Linked DNA regions of Homo sapiens. The protein of the gene in region 5 purifies or fractionates together with the protein of the main gene of each other region. This does not show direct contact. Each region holds a gene or a part of one and is shown on either strand. Other genes may lie near its edges. The genes, in order: CWC22, AHCYL1, GPALPP1, LENG8, PIP4K2A, NAF1 and PNISR.

Evidence for each region.
Region 1: the proteins of PIP4K2A (region 5) and CWC22 purify together in Homo sapiens (co-immunoprecipitation; 3 studies listed by BioGRID and IntAct, with this or other methods). This does not show direct contact.
Region 2: the proteins of PIP4K2A (region 5) and AHCYL1 purify together in Homo sapiens (co-immunoprecipitation; 4 studies listed by BioGRID and IntAct, with this or other methods). This does not show direct contact.
Region 3: the proteins of PIP4K2A (region 5) and GPALPP1 purify together in Homo sapiens (co-immunoprecipitation; 3 studies listed by BioGRID and IntAct, with this or other methods). This does not show direct contact.
Region 4: the proteins of PIP4K2A (region 5) and LENG8 purify together in Homo sapiens (co-immunoprecipitation; 3 studies listed by BioGRID and IntAct, with this or other methods). This does not show direct contact.
Region 6: the proteins of PIP4K2A (region 5) and NAF1 purify together in Homo sapiens (co-immunoprecipitation; 3 studies listed by BioGRID and IntAct, with this or other methods). This does not show direct contact.
Region 7: the proteins of PIP4K2A (region 5) and PNISR purify together in Homo sapiens (co-immunoprecipitation; 3 studies listed by BioGRID and IntAct, with this or other methods). This does not show direct contact.

The regions. Positions count from the first base shown.
Region 1 is NC_000002.12:179,997,228-180,001,248, reverse strand, and holds part of CWC22 (pre-mRNA-splicing factor CWC22 homolog), read left to right. Parts: intron 1-1,342; exon of another isoform or gene 1,343-1,518; intron 1,519-4,021. UniProt on the Homo sapiens protein: Required for pre-mRNA splicing as component of the spliceosome. As a component of the minor spliceosome, involved in the splicing of U12-type introns in pre-mRNAs. Promotes exon-junction complex (EJC) assembly.
Region 2 is NC_000001.11:110,012,128-110,016,148, forward strand, and holds part of AHCYL1 (S-adenosylhomocysteine hydrolase-like protein 1), read left to right. Parts: intron 1-234; coding exon 235-335; intron 336-769; coding exon 770-872; intron 873-2,635; coding exon 2,636-2,730; intron 2,731-3,297; coding exon 3,298-3,404; intron 3,405-4,021. UniProt on the Homo sapiens protein: Multifaceted cellular regulator which coordinates several essential cellular functions including regulation of epithelial HCO3(-) and fluid secretion, mRNA processing and DNA replication.
Region 3 is NC_000013.11:44,995,855-44,999,875, forward strand, and holds part of GPALPP1 (GPALPP motifs-containing protein 1), read left to right. Parts: intron 1-4,021.
Region 4 is NC_000019.10:54,455,306-54,459,326, reverse strand, and holds part of LENG8 (leukocyte receptor cluster member 8), read right to left. Parts: intron 3,964-4,021; coding exon 3,760-3,963; intron 3,361-3,759; coding exon 3,082-3,360; intron 3,003-3,081; coding exon 2,862-3,002; intron 2,692-2,861; coding exon 2,406-2,691; intron 1,581-2,405; coding exon 1,479-1,580; intron 1,394-1,478; coding exon 1,325-1,393; intron 1,225-1,324; coding exon 1,095-1,224; intron 1,014-1,094; coding exon 806-1,013; coding exon of another isoform or gene 421-805; exon of another isoform or gene 1-420.
Region 5 is NC_000010.11:22,704,443-22,708,463, reverse strand, and holds part of PIP4K2A (phosphatidylinositol 5-phosphate 4-kinase type-2 alpha), read left to right. Parts: intron 1-3,038; exon of another isoform or gene 3,039-4,021. UniProt on the Homo sapiens protein: Catalyzes the phosphorylation of phosphatidylinositol 5-phosphate (PtdIns5P) on the fourth hydroxyl of the myo-inositol ring, to form phosphatidylinositol 4,5-bisphosphate (PtdIns(4,5)P2). Has both ATP- and GTP-dependent kinase activities.
Region 6 is NC_000004.12:163,138,972-163,142,992, reverse strand, and holds part of NAF1 (H/ACA ribonucleoprotein complex non-core subunit NAF1), read left to right. Parts: intron 1-2,609; coding exon 2,610-2,770; intron 2,771-4,021. UniProt on the Homo sapiens protein: RNA-binding protein required for the maturation of box H/ACA snoRNPs complex and ribosome biogenesis.
Region 7 is NC_000006.12:99,407,908-99,411,928, reverse strand, and holds part of PNISR (arginine/serine-rich protein PNISR), read left to right. Parts: exon of another isoform or gene 1-964; coding exon 965-1,188; coding exon of another isoform or gene 1,189-1,212; exon of another isoform or gene 1,213-2,583; intron 2,584-2,584; coding exon 2,585-2,756; intron 2,757-3,657; coding exon 3,658-3,848; intron 3,849-4,021.

The DNA.
Region 1 (4,021 bases), on a different chromosome or scaffold from region 5:
GGACAGGATAAAGGGAATTTGCCCCATAAATATCATAATTTATTTTTAAATGAATCATTAAAAAGTTCAACATGTAGAATTTTTCTTTAAAACCAACTTAAATAGAAATCAATACTGTACTGTAAATCAAGAGACAGCTTATTGAAATGTTGAAACTAACAAAAATAGACAAATTTCTATTCTCATAGATCCTGCATTCTGTTGAAAAGAAGCACATTGGGGAATCTTCCTATGCGTAAAAAAATTAATAGTATTTCCAAATGATTGGATCACTTAACTCTTTATTTGGTTACTTAAACAGCCTAAAATAGACTAGCTTCATGATACAGGAAATGAATGGGGGTAATACTACCTCCCAATTTATAATGTGAGGTTTTCAGTATAGATAATGGTGTCACTGGGTTCATTAAAATGTCTTTTTTTTTTTTCACTCCTCTGTGTCTTACTGTCTTAAAGTGTCTGAAAATTTGGGCTGTCTACTCTCCACACAGAGTTGCAGACCAGTCAAATGCTTTTATATTACTTACTTCTTACAGAAAACAATGTCCAGAACTGTCTGCACAACTTCTAGCCCTGTACTTGAACCTGGCAATCTAGTCATTCAAATGGTTATGAGTCAGCACACCTGGCATATGCAATGACTATGAAGCAAAAGGGAGGACAGCTCTGCAACTCTTTATTTGTAATTTTTGGAGCCAGAAGTGTTTTGATTTCAGTATCTTGTAGATTTTAGAAAACTGCAGTGCCTATACTACATATTAAGTAATCCCCCCTTTTGGGGTCTGGAGTAACATCCTCTAGTCAAAACACATTAATATTTCTGCACTGTATCAAGTCACATTAAGTATCAAGTCAGTATATGCTAAGTTTTGCTCTCAAGTGAGTTGCCACATGCTTAAGAATAATCTTTGTATTTTCAGAGCTTTACAGATTTTAGAACTGCAGATAAAGGATTTTCAACCTGTACCTGGTGACTTTTCTAGAAAGAGACAGGAGTATTTTGACCCTTTTATTTTCTTGAAATTGTGATTCTATGCTGACATCAAATTATAATTTTTTGGCCTTATGAGGTATATCATGAGGCAATTTTTTCACTAATATGTAAATTAAGACAGGAAAAAATAGCAAGAAACGGTTTTTCTAAAACAAGTAAGTTTTCCTTCAGTACAGATATGGAAAGTACATAGCAATCTTGTTTTATATTGTTCAAGAGCGAAGCCAATCTGTTACTCCTATTTGTTCCCTGAAAAGGAAAATCCGTTCCTTGGGGGCTTGGCTGTTGTTGAGGTATTTTCTGAGAATTCCGTTCCGTTATGTCCCCTCCCATTATATTTTGGCATTTAGAATAATTTTAAGACAGTTTTTATTTTGTATTGTATAATATTACCACTTTCCCCATTGGGCAACTAAGGTTTTTGTTTTGGTTTTTGTTTTTGTTTTAAATATGAACTCTGTTAAAATGTTTGAAATTCACCAAACCTGTTTTTACTATTTAGAAGCCAGAGGAGCCAACTAAAGGTAACTCACTATTGATTCCCCTTTCCTTTAGCAATTTTATGACAATATGTTTCAGCAAGTTCCTCTAACTTGGACTGAGAACACCGAAGTGACAATGGTAGAAGTGTTTTGCTACGGAAATCATCTGGAAAGCAGTGCATTTCAGCCATTAGTTGAATATTTTCTCATTTTCTTAATTTTTGAGATGATTGCAGAATTCACAGTTTTCTGCTTAACAGTCTGACGTACTTATATATGTTATTAAATATTTTGCTTTCTAATGCTTGATGAAACTGAGAGAAAAACTATCTTTTTTTTAATAGTGCTCTCGTGAATACTATATCTCCTATTGGAAAATATCCTTTCTTCGGGAGAACAGGTGTGGTTTTGTTGAGTTGCTTTCTTGTGAGAAGGGGAAAGAAATTTAATAATTCACCATAAAATTCACATAGTGATGCTTAGAAGAGCAGAGAGTGCTATAAACTCTAGATAAATTGCTCTCATTTCAGGAATTTCCGATTAGTGTAAGTATTAGCATGCATATGTTGAACTCAGAATTTCCGAACAGGCATATTCTGCATAAATCTGGACAATGACAATACTTTATTCATTTTTTGTTAGAACTATGATAGCAGTCTACTTTACCATATTGTCATTTTCACACTTACGTTGTGAGACATGGAAATGTAACAGATTGTACTTTATTGCCAGAAATTATTTGCTGATGAAAGTTGAAAGGGGAAAGATGATATCGATCAGAAGAAAACTCACTAAATTGAAATATGTAAATTGAAATATGTAAATTTAAATAGAAATAAAATGCACAGAAATTGCTTGTTCTGAAATGTGTAAGTAGGTTGGGAAGAGGAACCGGGTGTAAGACTCCAGGAGAGTAGCAAAGGAAAACGCTAAATCTTGTGCAATGGGGTCAAGTGATTTTTTATTTTTATTTTTTGCTCATAGTATACCTAGTCACAGTGAATTCTAGGTATGCTAAATTAAATAAAAAGGAATCCTTAAAATTACTATGAATGTTTGAAAAGAAGTAGTGCTTCATTATATTAAATCACAGTCTTTGCTATCTGGAACTTTGAACGAATGGATCAGTTTAGGCTAGGATAATTTTCTGTATAGTAGAGTCTGTACTTGTTTACATTTTATAATTTACCATTTTGGCTTCAATTCGTTAGTGTTGGCATTTTCATTGGGACAAAATATATGGCTTTGGCATCAGATAAACCTGGCTTTGAAGTTTAGCTTCTGCCATTTACTAGGTGTAATTTACGTGGACAAATTGCTTGAATTCTCTGTACTTCAGTTGTTTCACTGAAAAACATGGCTAAAAAAAAAATCACCAGAACAGGGTAATTATGAGGATTGAGGAAGATTGTATAAGTGATTATAAATTGTGGCCATAATTTCTCAAGTTTAAAAAACACTTCTTACCTATGAATTATTAAGAATTAATACATTTGGATTTTCTGTTTCCCTTTCCAATTGATTTACAACTAAGTTCTTCACTATAAAGTAGGTAGGCTGTGGGGTCTCTATATTCTGCCTAAGTGGCTCATGGTTTGAGAACAAATTGAGAACCAAAGTTTCTTATGTAAAATTGAAAAGCTGAGGAGACTTGGGGAAAAGTTGGATTTTGGAGTTACCTTGGGAATACTTTCATAAAACAAGTATGCATGGGTTTCCCCTACACTTTCTGCCCATTTTCTGATTTTGTAAGTCAGAGGTGGGCCCCAATATATGTACAAGTAATTCTCCTGTCATGCATTTTTTCTTGATTCAAGTTGTGTTTAATATAGTGACATCAAACTAGTTTTACACTGTTAAGTAGTGATTTAAAACTGACCTGTAGGAAAAAAGTCCAACCTGTCACCTTGCTTGAGTGGCTTAGTGTTTTGTTTATCATTATAGATTTGTTTCTTATACCTAGAATGTAAGCTTCACATGAACAGATTTTGTTACGGTAGTTCATTGCTGCCTATCCAGTGCCTAGAAAGATGCTGGGCAAATAACAGAAGTGCTGTATTATTTGTTGGGGAACAAATGTACGTATAAATAACACTGGGTTTAAAGGTAATAAAGGATATGTTAGAAATGTTAAATGGTTGTGCTAGTAGAGGTAGGGAAAAAAATACCAATATCTTTGAGCAAAAGTAAGTCGAGTAAAGTTTTGAGTTTTATGGCTCTCTATACCTTTATAGCCATTAAAACAGGAGCTTTGGAAGGAGTCATGCAATTTGGTTTCAACAGAGTCATCTTGTTGAGGCAAATGGTCCTAAAATCCAGCTGAGATAAGGGTTATCCCTACAGGGCTCTCATCCTCAGGTGAGGGAGGGGGTAGCCTCTGTTTTAAATATTTTTTAAAATTCTATTTTAATTTGTAGCCTTTTAAGCTACATTTTGTACTTTTTTTTTTTAGTCATTACTCTAAGGAACAGTATATATATATCCTTAACTTTTCATGTGCTACTTAGAGTCCATATTGTATCACCTTACGAAAGATGTAGAAAAC
Region 2 (4,021 bases), on a different chromosome or scaffold from region 5:
TGTTCAGTCCTCTGTGTATAAAGCTGAAGCAGTAGAGGAAGAGAGAAACTCCAAGTGGTTGCATGACTGCTCTCCACTATTACTGTGCCGTTGAAGCTGCCAGTCGTCATGGAAATAGGCTTAAAGTTTTTCTGCCTCATCTCACCATATCTCAACAGATCCAGACCAGCCCTGGGGCAGGAACTGATGATACTGCTAGTGCAGACCTAGCTCAAATCCTCTGTTCTTTCACAGACATGTCTGCTCTGATTTCACTCAGGAAACGTGCTCAGGGGGAGAAGCCCTTGGCTGGTGCTAAAATAGTGGGCTGTACACACATCACAGCCCAGACAGCGGTGAGTTTGTTGGAAGAAAAGAGGGACTTCTGATAAGGGGAAGAAAGAAATCAATTTTTTTTTTTTCACTTTTCCTTTCCTAACTCGCCAACCTCCAAATGCTAACTATTAATAGGATCTCCCTGTTACACAATAATGGGGTTTTCTGGGTTTTTTTTTAATATGTAAACCCACTTTCAGCAAACTTGACCTAGGAAAGTCTAGATTTGCAAACATATGATTGTTATAAAATGTTATAAAGACTTTTAGAAACCTATGTTTTATGCAAAGTTAAATACCAGTGCACCACCTCGCTGGAGTACACCCTTTTGTAACTTTCCAGTGTAGCACCTGTTGGTGCAGAGTTGATAGGTATTGCTATCTTGATGAGGCTTGCTCTCCATTCCTGGGTGGCCCTTCTCTTCCTCACCCTGTCTTCCTACACTTCTACACAGGTGTTGATTGAGACACTCTGTGCCCTGGGGGCTCAGTGCCGCTGGTCTGCTTGTAACATCTACTCAACTCAGAATGAAGTAGCTGCAGCACTGGCTGAGGCTGGTAAGTTCGGTTTTTTCCCACCAACTTTGCCCCAAAATAGTTATCCAAACATATAACTTTTTTGTATCAAAATTGTCATTACAATATCATATATGTCTAGAGGCTATAAAATTGTGCATGATAAAAACCTCAACAGGAAGAAAGTGGATAATAAAATTAAGATGGATATCCATGGTGGAATATTATGTAGTCATTAAAAATGGCCTTTGAAAATAATCTAATGGCATGGGGTCATGCCCAGTTCTAGTGTTAGTTGAACGAGGAAGAATGTTAAACTATATAAGTGCCATCAATTTTGTGAGAGAGCACAAGTAAGAAGTACCTTTCATATTGATAGTGCATTAAATAATTTGGTATTCAGTATGGCATTGAAAATATATGAGCTATTTGTGAGTTTAATTAAACGTAAAATAATTTTTTATTATTCAGGCCAGGCCTGGTGGCCCACGCCTATAATCCCAGCACTTTGGGAGGCCGAGGCGGGCAGATCACTTGAGGCCAAGAGTTCAAGAACGGTCTGGCCAACATGGTGAAACCCCACCTCTACTAAAAATACAAAAGTTAGCCGGGAGTGGTGGTGTGCGCCTGTAATCTCAGCTACTCAGGAGGCTGAGGTAGGAGAACCACTTGAACCTGGGAGGCAGAGGCTGCAGTGAGCCGAGATCATGCCACTGCACTGCAGCCTGGGCGACAGAGTGAAACTCCATCTCAAAAATTAATAACAATAATAATAATTTTTATTATTCAAATATTCAGAAGAAAATCACCGTGAAGTTTCTTTGAGGACCTCTCATCTTTCTTTCTTTTTTTTTTTTTCTTAAGATGGAGTCTTACTCTGTTGCCCAGGCTGGAGTGCAATGGCGCAGTCTCGGCTCACTGCAACCCCTGCCTCCTGGGTTCAAGTGATTCTCATGCCTCAGCCTCCTGAGTAGCTGGGATTGCAGTGGCATGCCACCACACCCAGCTAATTTTTGTATTTTTAGTAGAGATGGGGTTTCACCATGTTGGCCAGGCTGGTCTCGAACTCCTGACCTCAAGTGATCTGCCTGCCTTGGCCTCCCAAAGTGCTGGGATTACAGGCGTGAGACACCACACCCAGCCGGACCTCTCATCTTTTTAAGATCCTCAGAAAGCAACTTTATAATACTTTTGGGTTTTTTTGTTTATTCTTTTCTGATAAGTGTTCACTGCAAAAAATTTAGGAAGTTCCCCAAAACCCTACAATCCCACTACATAGAGTATTTGATTAATGTTTTTCCTTTTCCTTTCTTCTACTTTACATAAATTCTAATATGTATACAGTTTTATAACCTAAATACAATATTTTCAGACGTAGTTTTCCATGTCACTGAAAACTTTGACAGCATCATTTGTAATAGTCATTCATATGGCTATGTGATTTCACCTCACTATTTTCCTAATGGAGAACATTTAGGTTGTTTCAAGATGTTTACTAATATCAATAATGCTCCAGTTAACAACTTTTATTAATTCCCACTTCATTTTATCTCCTTCTAAGTATAAAATTAGTCCAGAGAAAGGAACACTTTAAGGTTCCAAACTACTTTTAAAGCAAAAATTCCTTAATTTCTTAACCTAATTAATTTCTGAACCAAAAGTGATTCTTTGACTTTTGGCTCTGAATTTTTTCCCTTCTGAAATTGTTTCTTTTGCCTTTTTCTCTTCACATGGATCTCAGAAAGTGATTTGGTACAGGACACTCCTCAAAGGAGGAATCAGCTGATTCATTTCTGTCTCTACAGGAGTTGCAGTGTTCGCTTGGAAGGGCGAGTCAGAAGATGACTTCTGGTGGTGTATTGACCGCTGTGTGAACATGGATGGGTGGCAGGCCAACATGGTAATAATGCATATACATCCTACACTTTGACAATAGATTTATTTCCTTTTTTTCCCTCAAAGCATGGTTCCCTAAATATGTTTTGGATGTTTGGTCTTATGCACTGACTTTGTTGCTAAAGTGTTTAGCTTGATACCTATTCAGAATGGGTCTGAGTACTGAATGGAAAGGTGGGGGAAGGGTAAGACTAGCTGAACACATGGCTCAAACACACCAGAACAAAATAGTGGTGCTTCTTTGGAGTAGGATTCTGCTTTCTTTCCTTCCTGCCCCAGTTCTCCTTTTGCATTCAAAGGGGCTATATATTTCAAGACTCTAGACTAAAAATGAGTCTGTGATTAGCTTAATACTCATCACTGTAGCCTAAAGCAAACCTAGGAATCCTTTTAACCATTTTACACCAACAAATTTGACTGTATTTCCACTCTCTAAGCCTGCTCTAGGGAGCTCTGAGGAGTACTCTTCCAAAACATACAGGGCTCTCTTACTAGTACAGAAAGTGGGTTCAAAGTTCCCCCCAGCCCTAGCAGCCTGAATGCCCATAGAAGTCTTCTGGCTGTTCTATAGATCCTGGATGATGGGGGAGACTTAACCCACTGGGTTTATAAGAAGTATCCAAACGTGTTTAAGAAGATCCGAGGCATTGTGGAAGAGAGCGTGACTGGTGTTCACAGGTAACAGATTCTGGAGTAGCTGCCCCTTGTGTCCTTGCCTCAGCAAACTCTCCTGGTCTCTGTTAGGCTTTAGGACTGTGTTTCAGACTTATAACTAAATGGGAATATCTTCATTAGATAAAATTTTGAGTTTTTACTTTTGAAAAATCAAGTTGATCCTAGAAGGAAGTTATTTCAGGTTCTAGTTCATACATTTTTCTCTCCCATTTACTCCATTGAGTGATTCTCAACTAGTGTTGAGGGGCGGGTAGGGAATAAATGTATCTTGAAAAACTGTATTCAATATTGTATTATCATTTTATATTTGAAATATGAAAAACAATCCTATTGTAAAACTACATGTTATACACACTACAAAAAGTAAAACTGGGCAAAATATTCTTGGCTTGTTGGAATACTGAAAAGATATCTGAAAGAGTGTTTCTTGGGGGCACATTGCGCATGCTTACTCACACACACACGGAACCATATCAGAATCATTGATAGTCTTTGTTTATCAGAAGTAGGCATGGGTTTCTATTGAAAAATGCTGATCAAAGGAAATAACACTCCCTATAAAGGGAAGAGAAGTACATTTCTTCAATTGAAAGGCTTTTTTTTTTCTTCCAAAAAAGGGG
Region 3 (4,021 bases), on a different chromosome or scaffold from region 5:
TGCCAAGACCACAGTGTTTGTGGTGAGGGATGGGAGCACACGTGGCTTTCTCTATCTGTAGTTATTGTGCTGGATTGTTTGCTGGTTTGCCCCACTAAACCATGAGGAAAGGAACCACGTCCTAAGCCTCTGTAATCCCCAATACTAGCAGGGTACCCAGCACAAAGTGGGTACTCAGTAGATTCCTTTTGGCGGAGTAGAGGACAGTAAAAATTCCTGGTCAGGCGCAGTGGCTCATGCCTATAATCCCAGCACTTTGGGAGGCTAAGGTGGGAGGATCACTTGAGCCCAGGACTTCAAGAACAGCCTAGGCAACATAGTAAGACCTCATCTCTACTAAAAATTTAAAAATTAGCCAGGCATGGTAGCATGCACATGCAGTCTCAACTACTTGGGGGGCTGAGGCAAGAGGATTGCTTGAGCCCAGGAGTTTGAGGTTGCAGTGAGCTGTGATCACACCACCGCACTCCAGCCTGAGTGTTAAAACAAGACCTTGTCGCAAAAAAAAAAAAAAATTCCTTAAGAGGGGCCCAGGATTTATGGGGGTTGGAGAAGCCAGGACCTGCATGAATACAGCTAACCATAATCCTTTGTATGGAGTCTGGAAGAAACCTAATGGCTGGCTGGGAACGGGATTTTTTTTTTTTTTTAAACAGCATCTCACTGTCATCCTGGCTGGAGTGCAGTGGCATGATCTCAGCTTACTGCAACCTCTGCCTCCTGGTTCAAGTGATTCTCCTGCCTCAGCCTCCTGACTAGCTGAAATTACGGGGATGCACCCTCACATCTGGCTAATTTTTGTATTTTTAGTAGAGATGGGGTTTCACCATGTTGGCCAGACTGGTCTGGAACTCCTGGGCTCAAGTGATCCATCTGCCTCAGCCTCCCAAAGTACTGGGATTACAGGCGTGAGCCACTGTGCCCAGCCTCTTTTTTTTTTTTTTTTTTTTTTTTTCCAGTTTTTAAAAATTGTGATAAAATACACATAACATGAAATGTACCATCTTAACCATCTTTAAATGTACAGTTCAGTGGCATTAAATACATTCAGATGATTGAGCAACTATTACCAACATATCCACATCTCTTTTCATCTTGTAAAACAGAAACTCTGTACTCACTAAGTAATAACTCCTCATTCCCCCCTCCAGCTCCTGACAAGCACCATTCTACTTTCTGTCTCTATGATTTGACTACTTTAAGTACATCATTTGAGTGGAATCATACAGTATTTGTCTTTTTTTTTTTTTTGGACTGGCTTATTTCACTTAGCATAATGTCCTTAAGTTTCATCCATGTGGTAGCAGGTGTCAGGATTACCTTCAAGTGAAGATTCCTGAATCCAGTCTGTTATCTGTCCTGTGTTCCTCACACTCTGCTGTCCCAGAAGGAGATCTGACAAGCATGACCAGAGTAAAGAGGAGTGAGGGAGCACACAGGTCTGAGATGGAACAAGTTAACTTCATTTGAATACTCTGAAAATTGACTGCTGGAAAATGTCCCCCAACGTCATGTCATTAGAAACCCTGGGGTGCAAATATTTTCTCAAGAGCGATCCACAGACTCCATATGCTGTTCTATGGAAGCTGAGTGGAGCCTTGGCCATTTTGACTCTAACTCCAGTCTCCTATCTGCAGTGACCTTCACCTCCACTAATTTCACCTACATTTTAAGCTGGAGTAGTGAGTCTACCCTACTCCAGCTCCAAAAACTCAAATTCAAATCTCATTCTCAGCAAGAACCCCTTATTCATTCATTGTTCTCACTCAAGTTACTCCCATTTCATTTGCTTTTTATTTTTGTTTTTTAACCTCATTGAGCCTTCCATCCCTAAGTACTTCTATCCCTAAGTACTTCCATCTGAGAGGAGTGCTTACATCCCTACTCCTGTTAGACTCCATGGTCCACCCATTCATCCACTCTCTTGCTGGTGCTCTCAACTGCTTTATCCCATTGGGTATTCTGCCAAACCCATCTAACAAAAGCCCAGCCCTGGATCAGTCCAAGTGTTTACCCCTTGTGAGCCTACAGCCAGGCTTCCTAATGCTGCTAGAAGAAACCTCACGCCTCCACAAGCTAATGCTGCTAAAAGATGGCCTGTTCCCTAACTGGGTCCATAGGTCTGTCCAGTAATCCTCACAGGCTTCACCTCCTTTCTCTTCCCCAATCTGCAACCTTGGCTTTTTAAAACTTTCCCTTTCTTTCTAAAACTTTTATTTTTCCGTCTACTTCATTGAACAAGTAGATGCCATCATAAGAGAACTTCCTCAATTTTCTGTTACTGTATCTAAAAACTATCCTAAATCCACGCCAAGCTTTTTGTCTGCCCTTTGGTAACAATAGAAGAGGTATACTGCTTCCTTCTAAAGCTAATCCTTCCATTTTTACTCTGACTCCCTTCCCTGTCCTTAGGGCTGCCTGCCCTTAGCATTTAACCAAAACATTCAAATCTTTCCCATCTTTGAAGAAAACTCTACTTCATATCCCCCTCTAGCTGCATCTTTTTCTTTCTCACTGTCTCTGGGTCTTCTATTTTCTCCTTAACCCATTGCATTTCTGCCCTCACCAGTCCACTGAGACCCTCACCAATTCAAGGCTTCCTTTTCAGTCCTAGTCTTCCTTGACCTCACAGCAACATTTGGCCCCTCTCTATCCTCTCTTGGTTCCAACCATCCTGAACACCTTTCAGTTTTCTAAATGTGATGACTCTTTTGCTTTCAGGCTTTTGCAGATGCTTTTCTTTCTGCCTGGACTACTCTTCGTCCAGTCCCCACCTTCTTTGCCCAGCTAACTCAGGTCCCACCCCTACATCACTGCTTCTAGGAAACATTCTTTGATGTTAACTACCTACTGCCTGTAAAAGATGGGTTGGGTGCCCCTTCTTTATATTTGCATGATTTAACCATGTCATGGGGTCAGCAAACTTTTCTTGTAAAGGACCAGATAGTAAATACAGTTGACCCTGTAGATCTGCAGGTTCTGAGTCTTCAGGTTCAACCAACTCTAGATTGAAAGTACAATATTCAAGGGAAGTGGAACCAAGGCCATAGCCACAGATTTTGGTAGCTGCAAACAGGGGAGTTGGTCCTGGAACCAATCTCCCGAGAATACCGAGGGACAACTGTACTTTTGACTGTAGGTCAGTAGGCAAAATCAAGATTATTGTAAAAGTATGTGTACAACAAGAAGGAAGCAAACTTCACAAAATTTTATTGTTGCAATCTAAAACATAATACCATATAATTTTTTTGTAATACAGGTCTACTAATGAGAAGAACAGAATTGGTTTTGGGGGAGTAACATTTCATTTCATCGGAGTTCAAGTTAGCATTCCTAGTCATCAGAATCAGTTGTGGATGTTCATCTGTTAATGCTGATCTGTAATGAGATTTTTATGTATTATACTGAGTTCATTTTTTTATATGCATATCACAATTCTGTGTGATATGAAAGGGAAATAAGTGAAATATAAGGAACGCGTAACTCCTGTTCTCATGGAATTTATAATCTATTTGGAAAATTATCATTGCAATAGGAGAGCCTCCTTAATGACGACAAGCATCACTGCTTTAGGAGAGATATGGAATAGTTCATTACATGTTCCCAAAATAATTTTTTGAGATTATTCATAGTTCAGAAGGATATCTATAAAAAAGTGAAGCCAGACATGTCCTTACTTTTATTAGGGGGTCTGTATTGTGGCGTATACTGACTGACACTTTTAATATTCTTCTCTTTTTTCTTGAGACAGAGTCTCACTCTGTCACCAGACTGGAGTGCAGTGGCGTGATCTTGGCTCACAGCAACCTCCGCCTCCCGGGTTCAAGTGATTCTCCTGCCTCAGCCTCCTGAGTAGCTGGGACTACAAGCATGTGCCACCACGCCCAGCTAATTTTGGTATTTTTAGTAGAGATGGGGTTTCACCATGTTGGCCAGGATGGTCTTGATCTCTTGACCTCATGATCCGCCTGCCTTGTCCTCCCAAAGTTCTGGGATTACAAGCATGAGCCACTGCGCCTGG
Region 4 (4,021 bases), on a different chromosome or scaffold from region 5:
GTCTACCGGTCAACCTCTTCGACCAGAATTTCTCCACCTTGGCAAGACTGAGCTCTGAGGCCCAATGGCAGTGGCAGGGCAGCATCCCTGGCCTCCACTCACTAGATGCCAAGAGCATCCCCTTGCTGTGACAAGCGAAAACCTCTCTTGACATTGCCCAGCGTCGCCTGGGCACCTCAATCACCAGACAGAACCATGCGTCTAAACATGAGTCAAGCAACTCATCCCCACCCACAGCAAGCCAGGCGCAATGTCTAGTGAACGAAGGACACTGCAGGGGCATGGCCTGACCAGGGGCCTCTGGCACCGCGCCCAGTGTGGCCTCAACACAGGTGTCTCCCTAAGCGTTTCTGGTGCTCTCAAAGGAGCTGAGTGGGACTGGGCCTTGTCCTGGTAGACCAGAGGCTGTCTAGATGGTCTCTATGGTGGGAGCACAGCGACAAGCTGAGAAAGCAGAGACCTCAGGGTTCTGAGGAAGCCCAGGGCAAGGAGTGAACTAGGGGGTCCAGGCAGGAGAGAACAGGAGGAAGAGACACACAGATGGGGTGGAGAAGAGGCCCCAGAGGCAGTGAGCTGGGAACAGTGGGGAGAGGGAGAGGAGTGACCCGGAACACAGAGGTGACCAACAAGGAGAGCAAGAGGAACTGGAGAGGGGAGGGCTGAATGGAGAAAGATGATGGGGAAGCAAGGACCAGGACAAGGGTTGGGGGCTGGGGGAGGCCTGCGGCCAGGAGCTGGTCTGAGGGGCGGTGCGAGGCGGAAGGATGGGAAGAGCAAAGGCAGAAGGGAGCTTGGCACCACATACGTTTTGATCATGGCCTTGAGGGCGACCTTGCGCTCCCGATCTGCAAACTTGTCCACGAGGTAGCCAGACATGCAGGGTGCATGGCAGTAGAGCCGGAAAAAGCGGTGGTAGTTGCCCAGGGCCCAGGCTGTCCTTAATGCCAAGGCGTGGGCCACGCAAGGATCTGCCTTCAGTTCTCGTGTGAGGTATGCCAGCTCCGTGGTGATGTCTAGCACCAAGACAAAGAGGGTGAAGTCAGCAGGGCTCAACCCTGGGTACCATGGCCTCTGTCCTGGGGACTGGGCCTCACCTCCCGAGTTCTTGGTGAAGATGTAGTAGAGGATTCGGTAGGCAGTAAACTCGCCCACATTGCCAGGCAAGTTCTCGGCGTACAGCGACTTGAGCTGCGTCTGGCACTGGTTAAACTCTTCATGGTCACCCTGGAAGGCAGAGGCACCGAGGGAGGAGAGCAGAGTGAGGGTGCTGAGGGCAGAACGGCAGCAGGAAAGGGGCTGGGGAGGCCCGCAGAGGCCAGCTCACCTTCTCCAAGGCGATCCGGGCATGGGTCTCGTACACCTCCACCGTGAACTCGGTGCGGATGCCCTGCACCTGGGGCAGCGGGGCGAGAACAAGAGTCACAAGGAGCGGGAGGCAGGACTGGCTGAGGCCAGGCCCCTCCCAGCGCGAGTCTCACCGTCAGATCCTGCCGGATCGACTTCATCTGCTCGCAGGCAAACGCGTAGTCCTGCTTCTCTTTCCAGTGGCACTTGACCATGCACAGCGACTTTTTCAAAACCTGAAAAAGGGAACTGAATTCACACTCGGAGTACAACTCAGGTAGCGTGGCCAACGGCTTCCACTTATTTGGTGGGAGAGTTGCAACATTAAAAAAAGAAAAAAAAGGCCAGGCGCAGTGGCTCACGCCTGTAATCCCAGCACTTTGGGAGGCCGAGGTGTGTGGATCATCTGAGGTCAGGAGTTTGAGACCAACCTGGCCAACATGGTGAAACCCCGTCTCTACTAAAAATACAAAAATCAGCCAGGCGTAGTGGCAGACGCCTGTAATCCCAGCCACTAGGGAGGCTGAGGCAGGAGAATCGCTTGAAGCCGGGGAGCGGAGGCTGCGGTGAGCCAAGATCACGCCATTGCACTCCAGCTTGGGCGACAGAGCCAGACTCTCTCCCAAAAAAAGAGAAAACAAACCCACAAGACATGGGTTAAGAGTGGCCACCTCCACACCCATTTCCCTATAAGCACATGGCTGTTCACAGGTTCTGCAGCAGAACAGTGACTACGCCAAACACTGGAAACACAGCCCCCCACGCCCCACAGCCCACGGGCCTGGGAGAAGGCTTTATGCTCCGTGTCACCTAAGCCAGGAACCACGGCCCAGAGGTCAAGCGATTCGCCGGCCAAGCTGCACACCCGCCACGCGGGGCTCCAGGGCAGCAGAGCGCCTTTGCGCTCCTCTCAGAATGCCGACCAGCCGAGGCGTCTCTGGCCGAGCTTCCCCTGCCATACCAGAGCCCCCGTGTGGCCTCTGCCACCCTCCCTGGGTTGGCTCCCCAAGTCCTGAGCCAGCACGGCCTCACAGAGCAGAACTGCCCTGCTGGGCACTTACTGCCACAGGGCGCACGGTGGACGGGTCGGGGGCACAGGTGAGGCGCAGGTAGTGCTTGGTGATGTCAGGGCAGGTGCCCACGATCTGCAGCTCCTGCCAGTCAGGGTCAGCCCCACTGCTCTCCAGGCTGCTCATCTGCAGCACCAGGGGCTCGAGGCGCAGGCGGCGGGAGTGTCCGTGCTGGAAGCGGGCTGCCCGCTTCTGCTTCTTCAGCTCTCGCTCCGGGTCCTCACACTCCAGCGCCGCCATCTTCTTTCGACTGCGCTTGGTGGGCGCCAGATCGTGCCTAGGAAGGGATGAGGGGCAGTGAGCGCGACAGGCGTCTCCAGCCCCCCTTCAGCCTCGCCCCTTTGGCAGCTGGCTGTCCACCTGTCCGGCCCTCCTCCTCCTTCTCCCATGGGTCCCCAGTACCCTCCTCCACCCTGGCCCGTGTGTCGAGCCCTCACACAGTCTCACCTCTTCCCACGCTGCGCCCTGCCTCGGCCCCGATCCATATGGGCCCCTCGACCGCCCCGGCCCTTAGGGGGCGGGTTCCTGCGGCCCACAGGGTGACACTCATTCCCTGAGTAGGAGCTGTCGGAGTCTGAGTGGGAGTCACTGCAGGAAGAAGCAGGAGGGTCAGGCCTGAAACGCCTCCCCCTCCCTCACACACAGCCCCAGCCGGGAGCCTCAGTACCTTCTGCGGAAGTGGCGCGTCGGGGACCTGGAGGAGGAGCGGGAGCGGGAGTCTGTGCTGGAAGAAGAGCTGTTGTCCTTCATGAAGACGTTGCGGTTGCCAAACTTGGTGAAGCTGTTGCCCCGGGCTCGACCGGCACCCCCAGCCCCGGGCGTCCCTCGCTGGGACGGGGCACCCCCGCCCCTTGTCGCCGAGCCTGCCCCTCTAGGAGGGTGAAGGCTGCTAGCGGCCTCCCACCGCTTCTTCTTAGGGCTCTCAGCCACAGGCTCCCGGGTCAGCCTGAGAATACAGCAGGGCAGGGCGTCACCAACCCCGCCAGACACTGGCAGGACAGCCGCCACCACCTCCCTCAAGGTACCGACCCGCCTCCGAAAGGAAAGGCACTTACCCCAGGCGGCTCAGCTACTACAGTGCAGAAATGAGACGCGAACCCAGGTTTTCCGTCTCCAGAGGGTGCGCTTAACCACTGAGCAATGCACGCCTCTCCAGCACCCATGGTCCCCACCCCACCCCACCGGCCTCCCTCCAACCAGGACTTCATCCCCCCAGGATCCAACTTTCCAGTTCATTTCTCTTTGGAGCTCCTGGTACCTGGGACCCGCAACTCTCCTACCTCCATACCCAGCCCATGCCTCTCACAGCACCACCCTCCCACCTATGTCCCCCACCCAGACTAACCCCGGCAAGGGCTCCCGGCTCCAGTCAATGGTATAGGCCGAGCCGTCCTGCAGCCGCGCCTGCAGCACCTCCTTGAGCAGCTTTTCCGTGCGGTCCTTGTCCTCCTCCGACTCACAGGCGGTGAAGCAGCGCTCCACATACTCTTTCATGTCCTGGGGCCAGTCATCCGGCTTCCCAGACAGGTTCCCCCGGGCAGAGGACCCGCTGCGGGAGGACAGATGAGGGGCTCAGCTGGAGACGATCCCAAACTCAAAAGACCATC
Region 5 (4,021 bases):
TGCTGGAAAGGTGTGATTGGAGCTCGGGAGCCACTAGGGCTGGGATAGACCATTGAGACCTGCCCGTACAGAATCGGTAAGTCAGATCTCCACCGGAGGAGCAGGGACACTGGGGACACTTGGCTTTGAGGGAAGGACAGAGGAAGAAGAAACAGGAGGAGAAAACAGAGGTCGGCACAATTAGATGTTCCCAAGTGCTTGAAAGTCATGGCTGTGCTTGTGGTTGATTGCGGGTGGCTGTGAAAGCTTAAAGACTTAAGGAGTGAATGAGTGGAAGTAGAGGCAATTCCTCTTTTTTGGAAGGTAAGTAGAAGGAAGGTGAAAGATGCCATTTTGTTAGGAATCCCTGGGGAGTTTCCTTGAATCCGTCTCTTCGTTTCCATTCTCACTTCTGTCACTCCTAACCAGATTTGTTTCCCTCTTTCCTAGACTGATATTAAACCCCCCTAGCTTATTTCCCTGTGTCTGCCTTTATCCTCATTTCTTTTCTTTTTTGTACTAGGAACTCCTATGGCAGTCCAGTGAAGGCCATAGACTCCTCAGAATGAGGCTTTTAAAGGAATAAATGAAAATACAGAGGATATGTCCTAGCAAGTTCAAGGATCCTTTTAATTCTATCCATGGACCACTTGGGAGTTCATGGAACCCCATCAAGAACCCTTGCAAGAATAAGATGGGGATAGTGTGGGGTGAGAAAGTGGGGAGAGCACGCAGCAGCCAGGAAGAATTCTTGGGGGGGAACACGCATAGGCTGAATTGATTACCCGCCTGGGTCACAGTGCCTAGTACTTGGGATTCACAACGGTACCGTTAACCACTGAGCTGTGCTGCCTGGGCCAAGCTCAGGAATCATTCATTTCTTTGAGTTCTTTTATTTTCTTAGTCTTAAGAGCTGTTCTTCTTGGATGGACAGAGTATTAGCTGTTAACATGGGAGAAAACTACTTGAAAACCAGTTTTTCCCTTCATAGAAAGAAAATCATTGTTAATGTTCAGAGCATGTAGGGAGAGAACCAGTACATAATTTATTTAAGAAAAATGTTGTAGGGAGTTTTAAAACAGTAACTTACCTAAAGCTAAGCCTCACAATTCTAAATCTTTATAGTTTTTCAGCTACCTGGGCACAGTGATTAAGAGCTCTGGAGTCCTTGTTCGGTTGGCTATGTGACCTTGAACAAGTTATTTTGCCTCTCAGTTCCTTGATTATAAAAGGAGGTAATAATGGTACCTACTTTGGAAGTTTGTTATATGGATTAAATCAATTCATACTTGTAAGATGCCTAAATAGTTGCTGGCACATGGTAAGTTCTTAATGTGCTAGCTGTCATTATTACTATCCTTTAAAATAGAGACAGGGTCTTGCTGTATTGGCCAGGCTGGTCTCAAACTTCTGACCTCAAGCAATCCTCTCACCTCAGCCTCCCAAAGTGCTGGAAATAGAGCCTTGAGCCACCATGCCTATCCTATTTTTTTTTTTAATATCTTAAATGCTAAGAGGTAGCAAATTATCAGATTGTATGCTAAATCAATGGTTACTTTATCCTGTTTTGTAGTAGAACATCATCGTTGTTCTTGGCATCCTTGTGTATTTTTGAGTTATGAATTATCATTTTAGAATTACCCTTGTGCCCTTGCTTTGCTTTCTGTATCTATTTTGTTATGTTCTTTCTTGTATTTTTCACACTTCCACTAGCGATTAGGTTCTTTGAAGTGTCAGAAATCTAATTCACATCCATTAGTTGCAAGTTATGTCAGCTATTGACTTGATATTTCACCTTGTCTTTAAATATGGAGACACTGCAAGATGCTTCAGATGCAAAATGAATATATTGTGGACCTTGCTCTCAAATTGTGCATAACTACAGGGGACACAGACGTAAAATAAATATATGTGTAAATAACTACAGTGTCCAGAATGCTAGGGGTGGAAGGTATTAAATAGACCGTGCAGAACATTGAGCAAAGGCATGACGTCGGTGAAGGGCTTAGACATGAGGCAGTTTGGGAGAAGAGCATTTCAGGCGGAGGGGTCAGCTGGTGCAAAGGCCGTGAGGCTGGTGTTTGCTTGGCTTGTTATGGCAACTGCAGGAAAGCTGGCATGGCTGGAGCACAGCAAGAGGGGGATATAGTGGTAGGAGATCTGCCAAGGTGCTAACCAGGACTGGATCATGATTACTTCTGCCTGGGGGACTTGGAGAATCCTTGAGAGGAGGTAACAATGAGGAGGACCTTGAGGATTAGATAGAATCTCCCAGCTGCAGAAGATGGGTGATATGGTTTGGCTGTGTCCCCACTCAAATCTAATCTTGAATTGTACCCATAATCCCCAGGTGTTGTGGGTGGATCAGCTGGAGATAATTGAATCATGGGGGCAGTTTTCCCCATCGTATTCTCGTGATAGTTAGTTCTCACGAGACCTAATGATTTTAAATAAGGAGCTTCTCCTTTTGCTGGGTGTTCATTCTTCTGCTTGCTGCTGCCATGTGAAGAAGGATGTGTTTGCTTCCCCTTCTGCCATGATCGTAAGTTTCTTGAGGTCTCCCCAGCCCTGCAGAACTGAGTCAGTTAAACCTCTTTCCTTTATAAATTACCCAGTCTTGGGTATTTCTTCACAGCAGCGTGAGAACAGACTAATACAATGGGGAAAGGCATATGCAGCTGAGGGTCCGACAGCGGGCAAAACCAAGCAGAGCGGAGAATGTGAGTAGTTGGCTTTGGGTGTGGCCACAGTGGCAGAACCCAGTAACATGTTAGAAATGCAGAGCTTGGGCCTCTGCAGACCTGCTGGAGCAGAATGTACATTTTAACAAGACATGTTGATCGTCAGCATATTTAAGTCTGAGAAACACCCATCAGGGTAAATCTTTGGTTTCAAGCCCTGAGATTCCTTAGATGTGCCTCAGGGGCTGGTGGGAGGGGGCCAAGCTGGTGGGGGAATTTAGGCCTACCTCAGTTTCCTCCAGAACAGCCTTGTTTTTGTCCTCATTGTCATCTCTCTGTCCTTTTTTTTTTTTTTTTTTTTTTTTTTTTTTTTTTTTAACTGGGGTACTGAATATAATACGTAAAGGGGGTAAAAAAGATCCTGCAGCCAAGAAAATTGAAAACCACAGAGGAACATAAAGGGAGTGTCAGGAGATGGTTGAAAGAGTAGTTTGAGGCCACCTTTGAAGGGCCAAGTGGTTGATGTTTGCCAGAGAAAAGCCAGCAGTTCTGACCAGGGTTACTTTAAAATTTGCCACAAATCTCAAATGACACTCGACCCGGAAGTGTTACTGCCTCCTTTAATATGTTCTCCACTCTCTGAAGTCATTTCTTCCTTTTCACTTCTCCTTGAACTTCACCTAGTGTCCTGTCCCCCACTTCCCCCACCCCGTCCTTCCCTCAGCATATAACCTCATTTAGAAAGCATTGAACAAATAGAAGCCGTCAGCTTCCACTCTTCCCACCATCCCATCTAAATTTTGGACAGCTGGGTCCGTCAGTCTACAGACATGCTGGAGGGGCTGCCCTGCCTGGTTTTGTAGCTGCTAGCTATATATGGCAATTTAAATTTCAGCTAATAAAACTTAAAATTCAGTTTCTCATATCAAGTGCTCACTAGCCACATGTGGTTAGTGGTTACTGGATTGAACAGTGCAGATATAGACGATTCCCACCATTGCAGTGTCTTCCACTGACATGGCTCACCATTCCGGGGCCGCCCATCTTGAAAGCAAAATAAACTACAGTAACAGCAGAAGCTCTCCTTCACCCTTAGTCTCTCATTTTAGTGTCTTCTCGTGTTTTCTGTTCCTTTTTTTTTTTTTTTTTTTTCAGATGAGGTCTTGCTTTTTGGCCTGGGCTGGAGTGCATGGTGCAATCATGGCTCACTGCTGCCTCAAACTCCTGGTCTCAAGCAGTCCTGCTTCAGACTCCCTAAGTGCTGGGATTATACATGTGAGCTACCACACCTGCCCTGTTCCTTTTCATAGCAGGAGTGAAAAGCCTTGTCTAAAGCTGAGGTCTCCTATTTCTATAGAGAC
Region 6 (4,021 bases), on a different chromosome or scaffold from region 5:
TTACTTCCTTTGCTTTTATCTTGAATCAGGTAGTATGGAAGTTCCAGAATCCCCTAAGTTGGGTGGAATGACCAAGAAGGGATATGGGTGCCTCCTATGGAGCTGTATGAGGAGAAGTGGGCCGGCCTGAGCCTTGCTGTGTCTTAAGTTGCTCTTTACAGTTTAGCTCTCAGGTGTTAGTCAATCTAAACTCTACACTCAGAGGCTAATGGTTATTTAAAATATTGTTAAATTCCTCTTTTCTACTCTGGATTAGCCAAATTGCTTATGTGAACTTGGTCAAGTTTTCCTGTAACATACCTATTAGTATTGGCTCATGCCACATACTGTCTATTGTATGGCTTCCTGTTATCTACTGCCTGTGATGTTGTTTTACTTAAAACTTTATAATGATTTCATTATAGTTGTGGCTCATAAACACTTCAGAACCTAGGAACAGTCAACTAAAATACTATGCTTTGCTTTTGTCCAAGAATTTTGAATGTCACTTATATTTTAGTTCAAACCATACTGCACAGACCTGAAGTTGGCAAGGAATTTTTCCACTGAAATTGTTTTTCACACTTAGGAAATGGATTCATGCTATCTAGGAAACAAATCCCTGGGAAACAGTCTGTGTACCAGGTTGCAAACGATGATTATTTTACCTTGTATTAATGGATACACAGGAAACTTAAAAGATATTTTTAAATCTCTGACCAAATGAAGAATTGGGTTTGTGTATATGTGAGAGAATTAAACTTGTGAATTGTTTTTAAGACAATTTTAAGTGAAAGTAAGACTACAATAATATATGTCATGTAGGCCAGTAAGAGTGGTGCTGAGTGCACCTCTTCTGTCCTTCACAGTTCTTACTGGACGAGGTCTACTGGATTTATCTAAACCTTTTCAAAGCAGATGTCTTGCTATTTTCTTAAAGTTTTTTGCTTTTACACTTTTTTAAAGCTTTAAATTTGTGATGCTATTAGTGTTATTTCATAATACATTGGCATTTTAATAGTTTTTAATGTCACTACTTCTTTTTAGAGTACACATATCTTCAGAATGGTGGTGCCCTGATAGGTGAGCTGTTTTACGCCTTAATGAAAATTAATGAAAGATTCAGTGCTGTACTGAAATCATAAAATGTGAAGAGCATTTACTATCAAAAATCAAGAACTGAGGATGTGATAAAACAGCCATGTTCAATGCAGTTGGTATAAATTGGTCCAAGCTATTTAGAAAGCTATTTAGTAATTTCCATTAAAACTTTTATGCCTTAGTGTTAATTATCGTACTTTCAGCTTCAATACCTCCACTCCTTACAAATCAATTTTTAGGAAGTCTGAAGTATAGTGATTTATATATGTTTATCATGGCATCATGTATTATGTTGAACAAATTGGAAGCTGCCTAAATGTCCTACAATAAGAAAGAAGTTAAGTAAGTTGTCCTGAGTCTGTAAAGGGGTGTTTTATGATAGCTAAAATTATACTTACAAAGAATATAACATGGAACAACTTTAGGTTTTTAAAAGGGGGCAGTATACAAAACTACAGTATGGTCTTAAAGAAAAAAATAACGTATTATAGAAAAAAGACTGGAAAAATCTATACTGGCATTGATCATGGTCTTATCTCTATAATATACATATATTATCTCGCTTTTGTCCCCCAGGCTGTAGTGCGATGGCACAATCTCGGTTCACTGCAACCTCTGCCTCCTGGGTTGAAGTGATTCTCTTGCCTCAGCCCCTGAGTGGCTGGGATTACAGGTGCCTGCCACCACACCCGGCTAATTTTTGTATTTTTAGTAGAGACAGAGTTTCACTATGTTGGCCAGGCTGGTCTTGAACCCCTGACCTCAGGTGATCCGCCCGCCTCACCTCCTAAAGTGCTGGGATTACAGGCGTGAGCCACTGCGCCCAGCCAGAAAATATATTTTTTAATTCACGTATTTTGAGAAGAAAGTACAATTTGAAACCAAGAAGTTTCCTTTCATTATTCTTAAAACGTTTTCAGAAGTAAAATATGTGGTTCTGCTAAAAGCAGTTCTTTTAGTTAAATGTTAAAGGCTGCACCATCTTTGTGTTTTTTAAACATAAATAACTTCTACTTTATTAGTTGTTAAATTAGAAAAAGTCTGTAATTTTACAAAATTCCTAACACTGTGGAAACAGCAAAAGTGATTTAACTCCTATTGAAGTCAGAAGCTTGCTTTTATATTTCCCATCTGATGATTCCAAATGTATACAGTTTTCTCAAAAGTTACCAATTATAATCCTTTTCTGTGTACTTTACAAGTTAAATGAGCAATAATTTAAAAAAATCATAATTTGCATCGAGTTGGTACCATCAAAATGATTTGAATTTGGTGAGGAACAAACTTGTTACTATTGTTTCACATTCATAGAAGGGAAATCTGGAATGAGCGAGTGCATTTTAATCAATATATGAAGACTGAATATGTAAAAATGACATAAATATAACTAAAAAATTATTTTATTGCCCTAACACTGACAAAATTACCTTGTTCTGGCAATTATCAGTGGGATTTTTAAAAGAAAACACTGCTGACTTTTCAAATAGTTATTTTACATGTTAAAAGAGGCCTTTATGTTTCTATTACAGATATTCGAGATATTTGGACCTGTTGCACATCCATTTTATGTGTTACGGTTTAATTCTTCAGATCACATTGAGAGTAAAGGTATTAAAATAAAGGAGACTATGTATTTTGCTCCATCAATGAAAGATTTCACTCAATATATATTCACAGAAAAACTAAAACAGTAAGTACTTTACCGGCATGTTGTTCTTCACTTACCTAACGTTTATATTTTAAGAATAATTCTCAGTGATGTAATTTCTTACAGTTATATTGTGTGTGTCTTGCAAAGAGTTCATTTATCTTCCTAATAATATCTTTGAAGCCTACAATTTATTTTCAGATTTTGTACGTAGAATTCATATCTTTTGTAAAAAATGAGATGATCAGCCATTAAGAGCACATTTGAGCCATGTACACTTTCTGATTCTAGTTCAGTGTTTTTTCCATTATGTACATTCTTTAATGTACTTACTATTTTAGTATTAGTACTAATATTATTATCATTTCTTAATAACTTTTTTTTCAGTTAAGTAAAATTCTCTTTGGATTCTATTTAGGGGCCTTGCTCTTCAATAAAACTTTAAAATAGTTTTCAAGAGAAAAAAAATGAGTGTTATCTCTTTATTTTGCTTATAAATTTTAAGTTTGTAGAAGAGACAACTAACACGTGTCCCTGAAAAATTGTGTAGAAAGTTACGGTGTATGGAGTTGACCTAACCAACAAACCAGTGCTCTCCATTTTGTCTATCAATAATGCTAAGTGATTTCTGTGGCATGTGACCGCAATATTTTTTTATATTTGTGCTCCCATTGGTTGAATATTTTTCAAATGTTAGCTGTTGCCAGCTGTTAGTTGTAGAGCTGTTTGTATCAGCTAAACTTGTTATAATTATGTTATTTAATTTTTTATATCAGCAAATAGCATATGAATTTAAGATTTTTTTTTAATAAAAATAACTTGAATGCTTTCGAATGATGTAATGAATATGAGCCACTAAAAATATTTTCAAATTGGGAGTGGAAGAAAAGACTGCCAAAGACTGGGGGAAGGTTAAATCCAGAAAGACTTTGCACTCAGTTTGACACAGAAGTTCCTTTTAGTTCTAGCTCTTCTTTTATTGGAGACTTAAAACCTAGGCGATACATTTTTATAGATGTTGTTTTTGCAGGAAAACAAAGGAACTTTGGTCACTGAGTAACTTTGGTATTATGTCAAAGGTACCAACCCCAGTTGCATGGCATAAGAAGATTACTTATACCACTTACATGTTAAATCAAGTCTCAAGTCACCAAATTTCATTTATTTCAGAGATGAAAATTTTGATCCTGATAATTGATTTAACTCATGTTTAAGAATCTACATAAAGATCTGGAGGAATATTTTGCCTAAGTTATTCTTCACATTGCATAAGGTTATTTTCTTAAATAACAC
Region 7 (4,021 bases), on a different chromosome or scaffold from region 5:
GTATGCTGATGGTGAAGTCATAACCTCCTTTCCCTATTAATACTTTTTGTTTCTCCTTATAAGAATGGAGACCTCAGTCGAGACCAGCCTGGGCAACATAGCAAGGCCCTGTCTCTACAAAAAAAAAAAAAAAAAAAACCTTAAAACTTAGTCAGGCATAGAGGCGCATGCCTGTAGTCCCAGCTACTTGGGAGGCTGAGGTGGGAGGATTGCTTGAGCCTAGGGGATTGAGACTGCAATGAGCTGTGATCACGCCACTGCACTCCAGCCTGGGTGACAGAATGAGTCCCTCATTTAAAACAAACAAACAAAAAAAACGAGAATTCAGATTACTTTTAAAAACATAAATATTCTAGTCTTTGATACTGTGAGGTGGTTCATTTCTAGCTTTCTTGAAAGTGAAATTTCCCCACATTTGAAAATGTTTTAGTTCCTAAGTTTAAGTTCTTAAATGACTCCCGCGGGCATCCCTACCCCTTAGTTTTACTCTACTTTGTGACCCTGGGCAAGTGATTTACCTCTGTGTGCCTCGATTTTCCCTCCCGAAATTGGCAAAAATAATACCTAATTTCTCCCTACCTCACAGGGATGTTGTGAGGATAAATGTGTTCGTGTAAGAAAGAAATTATATAAAACCTCAAGGTATTATTTTTGTGGTGTTGTTACTAAACAAATATAAAAATTCAACAAAAATAGTGCTTTGGATTTTGTTACATTTGTTAAAAATAACTTTGGGCATTTGGTTAGGATATGAATTAGAGTGGAGTTAGCTCATTTTGAATTATATATGACAGTTTAGTTCATTGCTTATTTTTAAGATAAACAAAAGGAATTTGACCAAGAAGTCATAAGTTGTTTTTTAAATCTGTATGTTTACTGAAAAATCTTTCTTGAGATCTTAAAATTCTGTGTTGATTTTGTTATAACCGCCTGTTGAATGTTTTTATGCCTAAATCTTAAATAGAATGGGGAATGCATCAGCAACCCCCACACCCCCCTCCAGATCAGCCATGGATGCCACCAACACCAGGCCCAATGGACATTGTTCCTCCTTCTGAAGACAGCAACAGTCAGGACAGTGGGGAATTTGCCCCTGACAACAGGCATATATTTAACCAGAACAATCACAACTTTGGTGGACCACCCGATAATTTTGCAGTGGGGCCAGTGAACCAGTTTGACTATCAGGTGAAAGATATTTTGTTGCTTTAATATTGTAGATGTGCACGTAATCCATTCTTTGGAAGTGTCTCATCAAGAATACCTAAGATACGTGTTTCACTTTTCAGACTTGTATAAATAAGCACATTCTGTCTCAGTTATCAATTTTTGAGTATTAAAATAATTAGAATTTGTTTTCTGATTTTTTTATTTCATTAGGAAAATGGTATAAAAGATCATTACGGAAAACTTTTGAAAAAATTAAAAATGTATAAGTGCAATAGCTATATGATGTTTTATTTTCTAATTTATATTTCAAAATGGTATATTTAAATGTTAAAGACTAGAGAATGCACAGTAATTGAATATAGCTCATGGTTAAGACATGAATAAAAAATATAGATCATTTTCCTAAGTGTAATTCCTTGTGCTATGTAGAATTATGACTGTTTTTCTAGTGTCATTTTTTTTCCATTCTGACATGACATGTTAATGGAATTGTATATAATTTCCTCTGTAGCATCCAATTCATTCCTAGGGACATAGAACTCTGTGGGGAATAGTGTTGTATGTTGGGCTTTATTTACTTCATTCCCTCTGCCAGGGTCTACCCTTAAATTATAGTGCTAGGTGTCATTTTGAAATAACTGATTGCAATTATTAACTTATAAACTGCTATCATAATTTAAAATTTTGAAAGAATTATTTCATGAATTCTAGGGTAGATTTGATAATGGACATCTAGTATTCACCTTGAGATGGTAATCCTCTCATTAATAAATATTCAGATACTTGTATACTTGGTATACAGATACAACAGTTTTTATGTTGTTTGAAGAAATATAATGGCAGGGAGCATCTGCTTACCCTACTTTTGCATGGTAGATCCCATGTAAACAAGACAAAGAGCTGTATTGGCAGCTGGCCTAGAAAAGCCTCTGAAAATAGCAAAATTGCAGAAAATATTTAATGATTCATTAACTTCTATCTTTGCTTATAAATGAATATATCTGCAAGATTATAGAAACAGCTTAAGTTGTTTAGTTCACTTTTTGTTCACTGTAAGTAGGATGTTGAAATTGACAAAAATGTCTAGTTAAAGAGAAATTAGTATCTATTTGATGTCTTAGTGTTGGTAGGATTAGCTTGTAAATGGATTCAGAATGAAAAATTTCATATACTTCTTGAAAGTAGCTTATCAGCTGGCTTTTAGAAGCCTCTTTGCATTTACATAGCCGGAAAATCTTAAGACAAGTAAGCCTAGGTTCTTGGGACCATAGAAGTATCGGTGGATATTAGAGCCATGGAATTCTTGGATGTGCTGCACACATGGATTTCTACTGTCCCAGTTCATAACACACGTGTGTCCCAGAGAGTATATTGTATTAATTTGAAGAAAAAATAAACTGCAATACTCTTTCAGCATGGGGCTGCTTTTGGTCCACCGCAAGGTGGATTTCATCCTCCTTATTGGCAACCAGGACCTCCAGGACCTCCAGCACCTCCCCAGAATCGAAGAGAAAGGCCATCATCATTCAGGGATCGTCAGCGTTCACCTATTGCACTTCCTGTGAAGCAGGAGCCTCCACAAATTGGTAGCTATTTAACTTAGTTTAGTGGACCACAATTGGCATGACTTTTTTATCATATAAAAAGGATGTCTTGTTTTCTTAAAATTGTTTGAGTATCTCTGATGTGTTAGGAATTGACACTTTATTTTTTATGGTCATAAAGCTTAAAATTACAAAAATGATACTGGTCTGAAATTAAAAGGTTTAAATAATTTTATTTAAACCTTTACATTAAATTCCAGATTTTGTGATGAAGTGAAAATTTATGCTAGCCATAGCATGTTGGTATTTTCTTCAGTGTAGGCATTTCAGTACATTATACAGATATATGAGCCCTTCTCCTTTTAAATCTAATTGTTCAATCTCTGTCCACTCTTAGTTCATCTGATGCACTGCTGTCAGATTAATTTTCCTCTGGTTATTTCACTTCCCTTAAGTATTTTGGCAGAAAATTTCAATTTTTTAAATAACATTATAGAGCCAGCCTATTTCAAGTGACAAATACATATTTATGCCACTTTATATCTGGAAAGTTCTAAATTGTTCAGTATTTAATGGACAGGAGCATTTGTTAATAAATCTTTACTTTTTACATTTTAGGAAGATTCTAACTTTACTCCTTTTTTAACTTACTAGCAAATCACTTAATTTTTTCGAGTCTCAGTTTCCTCACCTGTGGAAAAAAGTGGAGTAATAGTAGTGATCTCTGAGGGCTTTTGTAAGGATTAAATTAGATGATGGTTTAACATGCTTTCATTGTGTCCTGGCAGATTGTAAGCACTAGAGCAGTGGTCCCTGCTGTTACTAAAAGTGATGGCATTGAAGAAAGGCATGATATTTAATGGGATATTTTTTAAATTTACTCACAAGTTTGTAGAAATATTTTACTTAACTGACTTGCGTATATTTTTCCCACGTGAAACAGACGCAGTAAAACGCAGGACTCTTCCCGCTTGGATTCGCGAAGGTCTTGAAAAAATGGAACGTGAAAAGCAGAAGAAATTGGAGAAAGAAAGAATGGAACAACAACGTTCACAATTGTCCAAAAAAGAAAAAAAGGCCACAGAAGATGCTGAAGGAGGGGATGGCCCTCGTTTACCTCAGAGAAGTAAATTTGTAAGTAGAATCCCCAACATGAAACTCCATGTGAAAATCTTGGTTGTGTGAAAACTTTACTGAAATAGATATTTTAGCCTATAGGAAAGTATTAGAGTGATGTTCCTAAGATTACGTTCATTAAGTATATTGAGGATTCTGATTTTATATATGTGTTACTGAAGATACAGTAA